Linked DNA regions of Homo sapiens: region 2 is linked to region 1. The links come from fine-mapping of genetic effects on gene expression. Tissue or cell type: tibial nerve. Region 1 holds a variant in brackets; the other region holds the start of a gene. All regions are shown on one strand. Distances are from middle to middle.

Region 1 (8,157 bases):
TCTATTCATGAGAGGTGTCATTCTGTTAATTTTGAGATTTCACAGTTTATTTCCTGCAGAATCTTCTGTCTTATTCTGCATAATCCATATGCTAATCTAGACCAGAATTTTTACTTTCTGTTTTAACTTGTAATTTCTGTGCATCCTATGCTTCCCCCCTAGTGTTTAATGCTGGATGTTGCTTTTTTCAAAAAGTTGATTTTATCTTTTCTTATTACCAGTTGCAGAAAGTTCACAATCTCTATTAATGTATTTGCTCAAAGTTTACATTGAGAATTAAGATTTTCATTCTAAGAACTTCAACCTCTTCCTTATATGTTTGAGCCAGAATTTCTTAAGATGTATTATACATAATAACTTTCATATCTGATACGAGATATTTTCACTTGGTTTGTTACATAATTACTTAAATGTTTCCCTCCTTTTCCTCAGATCTGATTATCTTTTTTTCCCAGTATTTTCTGTTATTGGAAACTCCATACATTTTATTACCCAAATCAGAAAAATGTGGTTCTCTCTGTCACTCTCTATTTTGGATCTGTAACTAAATCTTGCCAATTCTATACCTTAAAAATCTCTCAAATCCATCTCCTTTCTTCTCTCTGTCATTGGATTCATATGCACAACATTTTTCTTCTGGATTTCTGAAATCATATTCTGACTGATTGCATTTCTACTTTTCTTTTCTTTTCTTTTCTTTTTTGTGAGCAACATGGCTGTTTATTTCACCTGGGTGCAGGTGGGCTGAGTCCGAAAAGAGAGTCAGGGAAGGGAGATAGGGGTGGGGCCGTTTTATAGGATTTGGGAAGGCAATAGAAAATTACAGTCAAAGGGGGTTGTTCTCTGGTGGGCAGGGGTGGGGGGGTCACAAGGTGCTCAGTGGGGGAGCTTCTGAGCCAGGAGAAGGAAATTCACAGGGTTAATCACTCAGTTAAGGTGGGGCAGGAACAAATCACAATGGTGGAATGTCATCAGTTAAGGCGGGGCAGGGCCTTTTTACTTCTTTTGTGATTCTTCAGTTACTTCAGGCCATCTGGGCATATACGTGCAAGTCACAGGGGATGCGATGGCTTAGCTTGGGCTCAGAGGCCTGACATTCCTGCCTTCTTATATTAATAAGAAAAATAAAACAAAATAGTGTTGAAGTCTTGGGGTGGCGAAAATTTTTGGGGGGTGGTATGGAGAGAGAATGGGCGATGTTTCTCAGGGCTGCTTCAAGCGGGATTAGGGGCAGCGTGGGAACCTAAAGTGGGAGAGATTAAGCTGAAGGAAGATTTTGTGGTAAGGGGTGATATTGTGGGGTTGTTAGAAGAAACATTTGTCGTGTAGAATTATTGGTGATGGCCTGGATACAGTTTTGTATGAATTGAAAAACTAAATGGAAAAGATCTAAGAATTGGGAGGACCTAGGACATCTGATTAGAGTGCCTAAGGAGATTCAGCATAGTCCTGCCAGCAAAGATTATTTATTTACTTCAGGAGTTAAGAGTGGCAGTTTGGGGATAGCACGAGGAGATATCAGCTGTAATGGCTTGGAGAAACAGTGTAAACTGGCAGTGTAAACAAGAGCAGGGCATGCATGAGTAGTTGAGAACGGAGAATAGGAGTATGACCAGACAGAAAATAGTAGGGATGACAAGTTTTTTGGGGCACAGTCTAAGTTGGTCTGGTGTCTGGAATGAGACTGGGGCCTAATAAAAAGGAGCGTATACACAGGAGCTTAAATGGGCTGTACCTTGTAGGATTCTGAGGACAGGTCTGACTTCTGAGAAGGGAAAGTGGTAAAAGTATTGTCCAGTCCTTTTTAAGTTGGTGGCTGAGCTTGGTGAGGTGTGTTTTTAATAGACCATTAGTCTGTCACTGAATACCAAGAGCCTGAAAAAATGCTTGGCTGATTTGACTAATAAAGGCTGGTCTGTTATCAGACTCTATAGAGGTGGGAAGGCTAAACTGAGGAATTATGTCTGACAGAGGGGAAGAAATGACTGTGGTGGCCTTCTCAGACCCTGTAGGAAAGGCCTCTACTTATCTAGTGAAAGTGTCTACTTAGACTAAGAGGTATTTTAGTTTTTGTGACTCAGGGCATGTTGAGTAAAGCTAATTTGCCAGTCCTGGGCTGAGGCAAATCCTCGAGCTTGATGTGTAGGGAAGGGAGGGGGCCTGAATAATCCTTGAGGAGTAGTAGAATAGCAGATAGAACAGCAGATGGAACACTGAAAAGTTATTTCCTTGAGGATAGATTTCTACGATGGAAAGAAAATGAGAGGTTTTAAGAGGTGGGCTAGTGGCTTGTACTATAGTATAGCCTGCCTTCGCTGGTGTGTGGCGATTAGGCCTGGTGGAACTGCCATCAATAAATCAAGGGTGATCAGGGTGAGGAACAGGAAAGAAGGAAATATGGGGAAATGGGGTGAATGTCAGGTGGATCAGAGAGATACAGTCATGGAGGTCAGATGTGGTATCAGGAATAATGCGGGAGGCCAGATTGAAGTCCGGGCCAGGAACAATGGTAATTTTGGGACTTAACAAAGAGTGAGTACAGCTGAAGGAGCCGGGGAGCAGAAAGTATATGCATCAGGTATGAGGAAGAAAATAGATTTTGGAAGTTATGAGAAATGTAGAGAGTGAGTTGAGCATAGTTTTGTGATTTTTAGGGCCTCTAAAAATACTAAAGCAGCTGCAGCCACTGCACGCAGACATGAGGGCTAGGCTAAAACAGTAAGGTCAAGTTGTTTGGACAGAAAGGCTACAGGGTGCGGTCCTGGCTCTTGTGTAAGAATTCTGACCGCACTAACCATGCCTAGGAAGGAAAGGAGTTGTTGTTCTGTAAGGGATTGAGGTTTGGGAGATTAATCGGACATGATCAGCAGGGAGAGCACGTGTGTTTTTATGAGAATTATGCTGAGATAGGTAACAGATGAGGATGAAATTTTGGCTTGACTGAAGTAATGGGGGCTGTCTGTGAAGCCTTGCAGCAGTACAGCCGAGGTAATTTGCTGAGCCTAATGGGTGTCAGGGTCAGTCTAAGTGAAAGCAAAGAGAGGCTGGGATGAAGGGTGCAAAGGAATAGTAAAAAAAAAGCATATTTGAGATCCAGAACAGAATAATGGGTAGTAGAGGGAGGTATTGAGGATGGGAGAGTATATGGGTTTGGCACCATGGGGTGGATAGGCAAAACAATTTGGTTGATAAGGCGCAGATTCTGAACTAACTTGTAAGCCTTGTCTGGTTTTAGGACAGGTGAAATGGGGGAATGGTAAGGAGAGTTTATAGGCTTTAAAAGGCCATGCTATAGCAGGCGAGTGATAACAGGCTTTAATCCTTTTAAAGCCTGCTGTGGGATGGGATCTTGACATTGAGCAGGGTAAGGGTGATTAGGTTTTAATGAGATGGTAAGGGGTGCATGATCGGTCGCCAAGGAGGGAGTAGAGGTATCTTATACTTGTGTGTTAAGGTGGGGGGATACAAGAGGAGGACGCAAAGGAGGCTTTGGATTGGGGAGAAGGGCAGCAATGAGATATAGCTATAGTCCAGGAATAGTCAGGGAAGCAGATAATTTAGTTAAAGTGTCTCAGCCTAATAAGGGAACTGGGCAGGTGGGGATAACTAAAAAGGAGTGCTTAAAAGAGTATTGTCTAAGTTGGCACCAGAGTTGGGGAGTTTTAAGAGGTTTAGAAGCCTGGCCGTCAATACCCACAACAGTTATGGAGGCAAGGGAAACAGGCCATTGAAAAGAAGGTAATATGGAGTGGGTAGCCTCCGTATTGATTTAGAAGGGGTATTGATTTAGAAGGGGACGGGCTTACTTTCCACTGTGAGAGTTACCTAAAGCTCGGCGTCCGTGATGGGTTAGGGGGCTTCCGAGGCGATTGGGCAGTGTCAGTCTTCAGCCACTAAGCCAAGAAGATCTGGGAAGGAGTCAGTCAGAGAGCCTTGGGCCAGAGTTCCAGGGGCTCTGGGAGTGGCTGCCAGGTGAGTTGAACAGTTCGATTTTCAGTGGGGTCTCACACAGATGGGACGCGGCTTAGGAGGAATCCTGGGCTGCGGGCATTCCTTGGCCCAGTGGCCAGATTTCCGGCACGTGTAGCAAGCTCCTGGGGGAGGAGGTTCTGGAGGAACGCCTGGCTGCTGCAGTTCAGGTGTTTGGAAGTTCTTGTGTGCTGGAGATGTGGCTGGGGTTTGTCTCACAGTGGAGGCAAGGAATTGCAACTTTTTT[C/G]TATTATTGTACACCTTGAAGTTGAGGTTAATTAAGCCCTGTTGTGGGGTTTGAGGGCCAGATTCTAATTTTTGGAGTTTTATTTAATATCTGGAGCAGATTGGGTAATAAAATGTATATTGAGAATAAGATGGCCTTTTGACCTTTTAGGGTCTAGGGCTGTAAAGCGTCTCAGGGTTGCTGCCAAATGAGCCATGAACTGGGCTGGATTTTTATATTTGATGAAAAACAGCCTAAATGCTATCTGATTTGGGATAAAGAAAAAGGAGCATTAACCTTGACTATGCATTTAGCTCCAGCCACCTTTTTAAGAATAAATTGCTGGGCAGGTGGGGGAGGGCTAGTCACGGAAGGAAACTGTAAGCCGGACCAGGTGTGAGGAGGGGAGGCGATAAAAAGATTATAGGGTGGAGGAGCAGAGGCTGAGGAAGCATTGGGACCTAGCTCGGCCTGGCGAGGAGGGGAGAGGTCAGATGGGTCTGTAGAAAAGGAAGATTAGAAAGACTCAGCGACGCTTGGGGTTGGGACTGAGGGGACAGGCGGGAGGGAAAGAAGGAAGATTTGGGACGAGTTGCACTGGGCACAGAGACTAGGAAGGGACTGATGTGTAAAAGAATGCCTGGATGTCAGGCACCTCAGACCATTTGCCCATTTTACGACAAGAATTATTTAGATCTTGTAGGATGGAAAAATTGAAAGTGCTGTCGAGTTTGTATTGGGGTCAAGCGGCATTGCAGAAGAAAATAAGGCATTTACGTTTTAGGTCAGGTGTGAGTTGAAGAGGTTTTAAGTTCTTGAGAACACAGGCTAAGGGAGAAGAAGGAGGAATGGAGGGTGGAAGGTTGCCCATAGTGAAGGAGGCAAACCCACAGAAAAGAGAGTGTAGAGACACGGAGGGAAGGGTTTTGGGGGTTCTTACCCTCCAGAAAAGCAGGAAGGGGGGTTGGGGCACGGAAATAAGGGATTGGGGCACAGAGATAAGAGGTTGGGGTGTGGAAATAAGGGATTGGGTGTTCTTGCCCCCTAGAAAAGTGGGACTTGCCGCTAAGGGTGAAGGAGAAGGGGTTGAGGGGTACTTGCCCCTCCCCCAGAAAAGCGGGACTTGCCGCTAAGGGTGGAGGACCAAGGCAGGCATCCCTGCGTGGTCTGACACCTTTGAAACGTGGGTGAATAATCAGAGAGGCGCCCTGCATTGATTAAACACCAAGGGAAGGCTGCCTTCCCAGTCCGTGACCGGCGCCGGAGTTTTGGGTCCACAGATAAAACCTGTCTCCTTTGTCTCTACCGGAAAATGAAAGGAATTGAAATTAAGAGAAGGGAGAAATTGAAGTGTGGCACCAAGATTGAAAGGAGAAAGAGGTTGAGGGATAGTGAGGGAAGTTGGAGAAGAGAGTAAAAAGAGGCTGCTTACCAGATTTGAAATTGGTGAGATGTTTCTTGGGCAGGTCGGTCTGAGGACCTGAGGTCATAGGTGGATCTTTCTCACGGAGCAAAGAGCAGGAGGACAGGGGATTGATCTCCTAAGGGAGGTCCCCTGATCCACTAAATTTCATGCGCGTCCGTGTGAAGAGACCACCAAACAGGCTTTGTGTGAGCAACATGGCTGTTTGTTTCACCTGGGTGCAGGTGGGCTGAGTCCGAAAAGAGAGTCAGCCACATTTCTACTTTTCAACCTGCCCTTCACTTTGCCTCTAGATTGACTTTTCTGAAAAGCAAATTTACTTTTCTGCTTAAGATTTAGTGTCCCTTTTTGCCTTTAGAAAAAAACATGAACTCTTTAGTACAATTCCCAAATTATTAAAGACCTGTTTCCTATTAAAAAATATCCAAAATGGATTTGAGTTGAAAACAAATTCCACATAAGTTAGCAAAGTGAAAAACTGTAACAGCTTCTGTGCAATAACCTGAGTCAACATTTCCCCGACTGTGGCATGACTGAGACTTTCACACTTCTGCACAACTAAGAGAACCATCTTATTCCCACTTTTGCATGGGCCAGTAATTACATACTTGATTAAAAAAAAAAAACTTTGTTAAAATATTCACATTTCTTTGGCTCTACATCTGTTTTCATTTGTGTGAGGCAAAAAGTCCCATGATTGTAATGGAAAACTTGTTATTAATCATATTCATATAGAAAATTAGGCTGCATCTGATGAAATGCCAATGATTGGAATTAAACAATTGTTTTAGCTCAAATGTGTCTTCATTACTAGTGCCTTACCCTGGTTCTCAAGTCAGAAATGATCCACTCTTCTTTTGTGCTCTGAAAGCCCCTTGAACCTCACATTGCTTTACTTTGCAGCTAATTGTTTCTATATCTGTTTTCACAAAAGTTTGAGTTTTTGAGGCAAGGATGTTTTGCTATTTGCTCATAATGTGTCATGCAAAGTCTGGCTCAAAGACAGAACTTCATAAATGTGACTCAAATTCATGCTAAGACTAAAATTGTAAGTATAGACACGGAGCTGTTATGAACATGAACATTACAGAATGCCAGCTTTGGAACCTCTGGAAGACAATTATGTGACTCCTCGTTCTCCAAATTCAGAGTCTCATGGATCAAATTCATGTCATTATTAGAAATGCAAAAGCAAGAATATAAAAATTAGCTTCCTGGATGAGTGTTTCTTAGACTTTGGTACTTGTTTATATTTAAGTCATTTTTACTGCAGTTTCAGAGGGTGATGCTCATGTCTTGCCAGCAAAGCCAATATTCTTTTGGTGTTTTTATTATCTTAGACCCCAAGTATTTGATTTTGTTATGTTATCTTTTTTTTTAATGTTTGCTATCGTTGGCTTAATTTAACAAAAGAAAATTTTTTTATTTTTCATTTTGTCTTGCAATAACTGTAAAGTAGATTAAATCAAGTTTTTTCATATGGGTAGAGAAAAATTTTAATGAGCAATTTGAAATACATTTTTGCATATGGCCAACATATTTAAAATCTTCATTTGCTTTTTACTTTAATCTTGGATATAAAAAAAAGGCATCATAAAAGCAGAATCTTAACAGATGCATGATCCTCACATACGGTTTATGAGCACAGATCGCAAATGAGTAATACTAATTTGTTTATTATTTCCATCCCTGTGGAAACTTTGATGAATAGAAAGTTAAATCATGAAACAATTGTCACTTTCTCAAAAATAAGCAATTTATATTATAGTGCAAAAAATAAATATGCAAATGTATTTGAGGCATAACACTATTCAGATTTGTCTGAAACTTTTCTACCTACATCAATATCTTCTTTCATAAATTTAATTGTTAAAGACAGTAAAATAGAACTTCTAGAACATGTTATTCAGGCATATTAATCTAGAGTAAAAACATGCAGATCAGGTAGGCTCTTATTTAGTATCAAGATGAAACAATAAGATTTAAACAAACTATGATATTTTGGAAATTCTTCTTTTATTTATTTTTTGAACACTTATTAACTGCACAATCTTGGGCAAGTCTCCCCATTGTCTCTCTGAGTCTGTATTTTTACCTGTCACATAAAAACATGTCAGCCTTGCCCACCTTAATAAATCCAGGAAATATTTATTTAGCTCTTTTATGGGACATACACTGTTCCAGGCAGTTATGTTTCATAACAGAAGGGATACAGATGTGTAAGGAGACACTAATAAACATAAATAAATGAACATCACAATAAATAAGTGATGTGGGGAAAAACAGTAGGGTAAAGGCAGAAAGCTTCTGGTGGGAAGAGTAGGCTTATTGCAGCTTAAAATAAAATTGTCGCCGGGCACGGTGGCTCACACCTGTAATCCCAGCACTTTGGGAGGCTGAGGCGGGCGGATCACGAGGTCAGGAGATTGAGACCATCCTGGCTAACACGGTAAAACCCCGTCTCTACTAAAAATACAAAAAGAAATTAGCAGGGGGCGGTGGCGGTCGCCTGTAGTCGCAGCTCCTGGGGAGGCTGAGG
Region 2 (8,157 bases), 41 kb before region 1:
CTGATTGACCCAAAATTTGGTTGAGGCTGAATGTGGCCAATACTTCTTAAGTAAATCTTATAATATATATATATTATATATATTAATATATGTAAGGTTATATATTCCTTGGATAATATATATCCTTGGATAATAAGGCCATAGGATAGAGACTTTTATTTAGTGTTGTAGTAATTGTAGAGTCATGCAGACTGCATTCATAGCAATTTACTGTATGAAAACTGTCTTCTAGAAATGAGATTGCTACTATCGCATTTCCATCAGTTGGGCATTTGTTTGCTTTGCATTCCAGCAAAAATAAGGGATATGGGTGCTCCAGCCACATTTCTTTGGTTATGATCCACTTATGACCAATAACCTGTGCTTAACAAACAGCAGCTATCTCTGTCTGACTGTAGTATGGAATCCAACTAATTCACTGATTCCTAATGGCCCGTACTTCTGGTCTAGGATCCAACACCACCAGACTTCTGTGTTTTATTGTTGTTGATTGTTTGTTTAAAGGATCTAAAATCTGACCTGTTTTAATATTGTGACATGGTTCAAAGTTCCACTACTGCATATTTTCCTAGCTTTGGTCACCACTAACTTTTTGGTAAAAACAATACACAAGCCCCTGCTTTAAAAAATATATATAAAAAGAAAACAAAACAAAAAAAGCTTGCCCAAATGGGTTTGCAATTCTGTAAGGTCTGTCCTTGATCTGGTCTTATCATGTCATGGGAATGCAATCTATTAATGATAAACCTATTTTATCAAGGCATAGCTAACTTTTAAGCATTCTTGTTTGAAATTACTCCTCTACTTGCAATCACAGCTGCCTGGTGACAAATGTTTTACAGTTAAATATTAATGCCCCACATAAATATAGTTAAAAAAACAAGCTGAAGTTAAATAATATTAAATAATACATTTTATGTGGCTAAAAAAAGGTGCATTGATGATTCACCAATTGAAGCACTATACAAAAACACCTCCCATTCTCAGAAGAGCCAGCTGGAGAGAGGCATTGCTTGGTTAATTGTAGTTTTACTTATATCTTTCCACCACTTAGTAAATGAGAAACTTTTTTTTTTCAAATTCTTTCACAAAAGCTTTGGGAAGCCTAGCTTTGTTGACTATAAATATGGTACTTCACATTTCCAAATAGCTTCATAGTCAGCATTTCACAATATGCTATGCGGTCACTCAGTTTTTCACAGTTTTGAAAGTGAGAAAACTGACATAGAGGTTAGATGATTAGTTTTAGTTAATTGGGAATCCCAAATCTTATGTGCCAACTCAGGGATCTTAAAAAAAATTCAAGTGCAAATGTCAGAATATAACTATCCATTTGACCTTCATGAAGCTGATCATGTACTAAGGCAACATTTTCATTTCCCTGGCAATCTTGGCACCTTCAACATAGTTTAATTGTTTACAACCTTTAGTGATAAAATTAAATTGGTGTTCTTTGTGTATCCTTTACGTATTTGGTGAATTTTCATTTATCCTTTCAAAGTCTTTTTCGACTCCTTTCACTCTTCAAAGCCTTGTCTGTTCCTCCCTCTTTGTCAGTTGACTGTGTTTTCTCAGCGTCCATCTCTGTACCTAGCCAGCTGCCCTGATAAGGCTGTGAGTAAGCTGAAGGCAGACCCTATCTCTCATTCATCCTGGCCCAGTGCCCAGCACAAACTAAGCACTCAATCAATTTAAAGTTTGTTGAACTAACTAGCTAGCTAACTGACTAAATAAATTAAGATTCAGGTGGTATAGAGAAATAAAGGATAAATTGGTAACTTCTAACAATGAACACCGAGTATTTATCAGGGTGTGGCAATATCATAAAAGGTGTAAGAAAGACACGGAGGTACCTTGGGTTATACCTTTCACCAGGACTAACCTGAAGCACTAGCGTGACAACTGTTGTGATACTGGGGATGATCTGAATATTCTTCCTCTCAGATTAAAGTGGATATTTTCTAACACAACAACATTTATTGGTAAAATATGACATTTTCCATAAAAAATTTAAAAGATGCTTAAGAAAGTTCTCTACAGTTTAGGACACATTTTGAGTATGAATAGAGTTACTCAAAATATCCTATCAATATACAGTGGGCTTCCATATTTCTTTCCCCTTTAATTATATGCCACTTCCATTTGTGTTTCATCAGTGAAAAAGTAATTTGGAGGCCTTCTCATTCATTATCCCGCAGCTGGAGTTTTCATTCGTTTGTACTGGGGGGGACCCTCGCCTTAACTGCACACACCTCCCTTTCCTCTGGGTCCCATCCTTGCCATCTGCCAGGGGCAAAGTTGAAGCAGCCCCTCCACACTACTGCTTAACCAGGTCTGACATCCTCATCCAATTCTACTGTCAGCGGCATTCTGCTCAGAGATCACTTTTGTTTTACCCCAAGCACAGGCAGTGACTGAATAAAAGGCAATGAAAGAAAGAAGAGTCCTGCCCAGAACCGCAGGTACGAGTCACAACAGGGCCCCGAGAGCAGCCTGTGGTAAGAAGTGTGGCTTCCAGGTACCCGCCTCCACACTCAGCCCAGCCTTATGTATGCAAGGAAAATCACACCCCAGGAAAGACCGACATTCTTTCTCCTGTTGAAACTCCAAGCCCAAACTGTTATTCTAAAGGAAGCGCATTGCCTTTCAAGGCCTTCCAGTTCTTCCTACTGCTTGGGAACTGATGCGCGTTCCTCCTCCTGACGCCGGCCTGGGATAAGAGGAGAGTAGGGGGCAGGTGGCGGAGAATATGCCCATGTTTCAGAAAGCCGGTCCACCCGGTGTGCCCCGTCTCACCAGATGTGCAGACAGCTGAGGGTGGCAAAGAGAATTCCCGCAATGAAGGCCAGGGGAATGGCCAGGAACACCGTCAGGAACTTGTACATTACGTATTTGCTGATTTCAAAGAGGGCATGGCTGCAGATCCACACTTTGTCAAAGGAGTGCGTAGTCACCGGCTCTGCGATCACATCCTCGAAGCCCAGCTGAGGAGACAGGACGCAGGGACCCCGAACTGTCAGCCAACCTGACGCCCCGGGAACCGGGAGCGCTTTGGGCGGGGGAAGCAGGAGGGAAGGACGTGCCAGGGCGTCCGCCTCTTCTCTTAGGGTCACGGTGGGCGCACAGGAACCTGGCTAAGAATTCCTGGCTACGCGGGCGGCCTGGTGACGGGTGGGACCGGGGAAGGGTGCGGGTCTCAGACCCTGCGGGGCCGACCCGGTAGCAATGGTGGGACGGGTTAGGGCGGGGCTGAGGGGCGCCCGCACCTCCCGGCCTCAGCGGGGACTTGGGCCCGCCCGCCCCGGGCTTCACCTTGAGATGCGAGTTGAGCCGGTGGGGATCCCGGTCCTGGTCCGAGTCCGCGAACTTCTCGGGGTCGGCGTACTCGAGGCCGCTGTGGTGGCTGTAGGAGTCGTCGTCCATGAAGAGCTGTACGTCCGCCTTCTCCGTCTCCAGCCCCATCGCAGCCTTGGTGCGCGGCCGCTGCAGCCCGGCTGGCGCGGTGCGGCTCCCGGTCCGCGCGGCCTCCCCTTCCCGTAGCGCCCGGCCCCGCCCCCCCTCGCCTCGCCTAGCCCTGCGAGGCCCGGGCGGCGGCCGCTTCCCGCTGTGGGCTCCAGCTCCCAGCCCGGCCGTCCCGAGCCCCGCCCCGGCGCCCCGCCGCCCCTCCCCGCCCACCTCCCCCGCCGGGGCGCAGGGAACCGTCCCCACGAGTCACAGCCCGGGCCCTGCAGTGGGCGGCGACGCCGGCAGCTGGGACGAGGAGGGCCTCCTGGTCACCCTTCTGGGGGCCCGTACTGTCATGCCTCAGAGCTGGCAAGTCGTCCCAGGGAAGACAACGGCCTTCCTGGAGGGAGGGAACCTTGTGGTTAGGCGCATGGGGTGCGAAGCAGGTATGTGCTCACCTCCGGCTGTGTTTGCCTTGCGTGCTGCGGCTCATGGTGCTGGTATTGAGCCTCTGGGAACCTCAGCTGCCTCGTTGGCAAAATGGGGGCTGTGGCATCTGTTTCAGGGGTGTCCGTGAGAATTAAATGTTAATTTCACATAAAATTCTAACACACATGGCCCATGGCCCGTAACACACAGTGATAAACTTCCAATCAACGTTGTTGCTGCTGTCGTGAGAGGTAAGGAGCCACAATGTACCTGAGTGCTAGGTACCTGAGTGCTAGGTGACCTGCAAGTGCATGTGGAGTTGGGTAGGCGAACGCCCTGGCCCTAGAGTTTGTGCCTTCAGATCTGAGGTGTGAGGGGAGATCTGATTTTTTTTTTTTTTTTTTTTTTACTTCCTAAACTACACCGTGTGTGTGTGTGTGTGTGTGTTTGTGTGTGTGTGGCAGAGTTTCGCTCTTGTTGCCCAGGCTGGAGTGCAATGGCACGATCTCGGCTCATCGCAACCTCTGCCTCCCGGGTTCAAGCGATTCTCCTGCCTCAGCCTCCCGAGTAGCTGGGATTACAGGCATGCACCACCACGCCTGGCTAATTTTGTATTTTTAGCAGAGACGGGGTTTCCCCATGTTGGTCAGGCTGGTTTCGAACTCCCAACCTCAGGTGATCCGCCCGCCTCGGCCTCCCAAAGTGCTGGGATTGCAGGCGTGAGCCACCGCGCCCGACCTCCACCTTTTAATTTTCTTGTGAACCAGACTGTCTTGAAAGATTCAGGAACTTCTAAGATGCAGTCACATCTGTGATTATCTTGCAGGCAGCACGGAAACAGAACCCTAACACAAAGCCACATTGCAATGGATGAATTAGCCTGCTGACCACTCACGCAAAGGTTTTCAGAAGGGAGGAGTTTGCATGTTCATAAAGGGCTTTAGGGTCTGGTAGACATATACGTGTGTTTGGGGAGGAAGGGCACTTAGTGAAAATTTGCCAAAAGCAAAACAATGAGAACTAGGCTTGAGGTGCAGGTTGCTCAGAGCTCAAAGTAGGCATGTAGTAGGTATTGCTGGATACAGTGTATTTGGAGCTTGTTGAACATATCAAATCCCCTTATGTGAACTGGATTTGAAGAATTGCTTCTTCCGAAAGAAAAAAGATCATTTTTGAAACAGTAAAAATTACAGAAATAAAAAAGAACAGGAACTGAATGAGAAAAATGTTTGGGGGTGGGAGGCAAAGTTCAATATTTCTAATAATTAAAAAGTTTCCCTGCTGCTACCTCAGTATATGAAGGGCAGTGTTGTAACCCTATAGGGTGTTACAGAGTTGACTCTCATGGCTATGGAGCCCCTCCTCTCCCAGACATCACCCTGCTTACCCATTCCCTTCTTTTTTACGTATCTTTCTCATTTTTATTTATGTTCAGTCAATTCCAAAGTGATGACTTAGACATTCTACTCATTGCATTTTCTCTGCTTCTCCACCTTGTCCATTCTCCTGATGAGAATTGGAACTCTTCTAGAATTGTTGCCCAACAACTGTTCATTAAAGTGAATAGAAGACATGAATCCTTATGGGAATCCATAATATCAACTGTGAGGAACAGAAAAAAAAAGGAGATAATTTACAGCCAAATACCATTTTATAATTATAATTCAAAATTATAATCCCAGATTTCAAGGTCTCACCCAAAGAAGAAAGTCACTGCCCTAGTACAAGAGTGGGCTTATGTAGTGGGTAAAAATCTGACATTAGCACTTCTTACCTTATAATTCTTGGTCCTCATTACATTTACATTTTCCATGGGATTATTAGGACATTTGAGAGTTATCACAAATAATTGATTTGTTTTCAGGAAGTGGCCAAGAGGACTCTTTAGACAACAGCTTCATTCGTAAAATGATAGGTATTTAAGAAAGGTGTCTCTAAATCCCATCTAAATGAGACCCATCTAGATTTGTTGTATGGAGCACAGAACTTGAAAGGAGAGGATTCATTTATTCATCCATTTGTAATTTTTTATTGAACAATCTTCTCTCCCTTGGGTCAGATCTGGTGAGGTTCTTATTTTGATGAAATTCTTATACATTTCAACATTTTAATACATAAGATTTTTTGAAGGAAGCTATAAAAATGATTTTGCTTATCCTATTGGCCAGTATTTAGATAAGGTTAGTGATATGGCTTGGATTTGTGTCCCTGCCCGAATCTCATGTGGAACTGTAATCCCCAGTGTTGGAGGTGGGGCTTGGTGGGAGGTAGAGATTAGATCATGGGGGCAGAGTTCTTAGGAATGGTTTAGCAACCACCCCCACTGCCACCCCTGCCCCCCGACCCCGCAGTTGGTACTGTATAGTGAGTGAGTTCTCATTAGATCTCGTCCTTCAAAAGTGTGTGGCACCTCCCCCTCACCTTTCTTTGGCTCCTTCTGTGGCCACGTGAGGTGATACTCCCTGTTTACCTTCCGCCATGATTGTAAGTTTCCTGAGGCCTCCCCAGAAGCTGAGCAGATGCCATCATAATGCTTCCTGTACAGCTAGTGGAACTGTGAGCCAACTAAACCTCTTTTCTTTATAGATTACCCAGTCTCAGGTATTTCTTTATAGCAGTGTGAGAACGGACTAATATAGTTAGCTACTGTTTTTCTCAAGAGGCTTAAACCAGAGTGATTCCCACAGCAATGGCATCTGTCCTTATGAACATAAAGGAAAATTTACCAGGAAAGGGAAAAGAAAGGGGGTGGGTGGGTGCTAAATGGCTGAACACATTCTAGTGTCTTCTGGATCACAGAATTACTCTCCAATAAGCACCTCCTACAGAGTTTACGTGCCCTGTAATCCAGAGAAATTAAAAAAATTATAATAAATTCCTACTGGTGCATTTATCTTCTGACTTATTATGTATCATAGCTTCTGATAAGAGGGCTGTTTTTTAGATGGTGTATTAATATATTTTAGAAATAACAGTCTGATAATAGATTAGAATTTGTGAGAAGGATAGTTTATAACCATTTTGTTACTCACTTCTTTCAGCACAGTGTCAATGGAAGAAGGTTATTTTTCTGGAGCATTGAAAATTGTATGGCAATGCTCTTATGAATAAAAATATCTAATTTTTTCCCTTCAGCTTTTTTTCCTTTTCAAATCACAAATGTGTCATATTTTTTTCCCTGTATAACGCACATGCAATTTTAGTCAGGGTCTGTTTTTCAAACTGCCTTTGAGCAAATTGGTATTAACGAAAATGCAGTAATAAATTCTTGATCTCACCATATGTTTTAATAATATTCAGAGTGTTCAGATTAGACCAGAGTTTCTCAATCTCAACCCTGTTGGCATTTTGGGCCAGATCATTTTTCCTTGAGAGACTGTCCAGTGCATTGTAGGATGTTTAGCAACATCCTTGGCATCTATCCACTAGATACCTATAACACTCCCAGTCATGACAACCAAAATGTTTCCAAATGTTGCCAAATGTCCTCTGGGGGGCAAAATCACCTTTCTCCTTCTTTCCCAGGCTGAGAACCACTGAATAAGACAATGTTGAAACAGTGCTGTGTGAATTAGAAAAATTAAGCTCCAGCTCTTCATTTACAAATCCATGCTTAGAAATCTCAGAGTTGTATCACCAATGTATTAGAAACTCCAGGGCTAGGCCTGGCACAGTGGCTTACACCTATAATCCCAGCTCTCTGGGTGGCTGAGGAGGGAGACATAGTGAGACCCAGTCTCTACAAAAAATAAAAAAAAAACTAGCCAGGTGTAGTGAGAGATGCCTGTAGTCCTAGCTACTACAAGAGGATTTCTTGAGCCCAGGAGTTTGAGATTGTAGACTGGAGTTTGAGGGCACAGAGCAAGGCCCATCTTAAAAAAAAAAATAGAAAGAAACTCCACGTCTTTTTGAAATTAAACTTAAGAATATTTGTTTGTCATGTAAAATGTTCAGAAGAACCCATTATCATTGACTAATTGCAATTTTTTCAATACAATGTTGGTATTAATTAATGAATACATATTAACCCCCACCCCCTTCCCCTAGAGATCAAAAGGAAGCAACTGCCAAGGCCTCAAGCTCTGTCTACCTTGCCTGGCCTCCTATACTTTCCTCACAAAGGTTAGGATTGTTTAAATGATTATATCTGGAAAAATACAGGCTTGGGACTTCTTGATCTGTAAGATTCTCTCTTAAAGCTATAAAATTCAGTGATTTTTGACAATCTTCAGCAAGTGAATAGCTTTTGCAATTTTAAGTAACCTTAACTGAGAAATCCATGGA

Direction of the effects. Alleles are on the strand shown, and positions count from the first base shown. SD is a standard deviation of normalised expression in the study named.
As copies of C replace G in region 1, the expression in tibial nerve of the gene that starts at base 3,728 in region 2 goes down (small effect, 0.29 SD a copy in GTEx).

Evidence for each region.
Region 2: it holds the start of CAV2-DT, and the variant in region 1 is fine-mapped to the expression of CAV2-DT in tibial nerve (GTEx, PIP 0.97).

The regions. Positions count from the first base shown.
Region 1 is chr7:116,453,682-116,461,838 of GRCh38, reverse strand. All of the region lies in intron 1 of CAV2-DT (CAV2 divergent transcript), which reads left to right. Among named protein-coding and RNA genes, the nearest start is that of CAV2-DT, 42 kb to the left of the region's middle. The variant C/G (reference allele first, on the strand shown) is at 4,217.
Region 2 is chr7:116,495,087-116,503,243 of GRCh38, reverse strand. CAV2-DT (CAV2 divergent transcript) reads left to right here and starts at 3,728. Exons shown (of 3, transcript NR_188012.1): 1 at 3,728-3,890. CAV2 (caveolin 2) reads right to left here and starts at 3,506. Exons shown (of 3, transcript NM_001233.5): 1 at 3,313-3,506; 2 at 2,797-2,984. The coding sequence starts at 3,462. RefSeq lists silencers at 1,455-1,749, 3,534-3,623 and enhancers at 3,804-3,943, 3,990-4,491.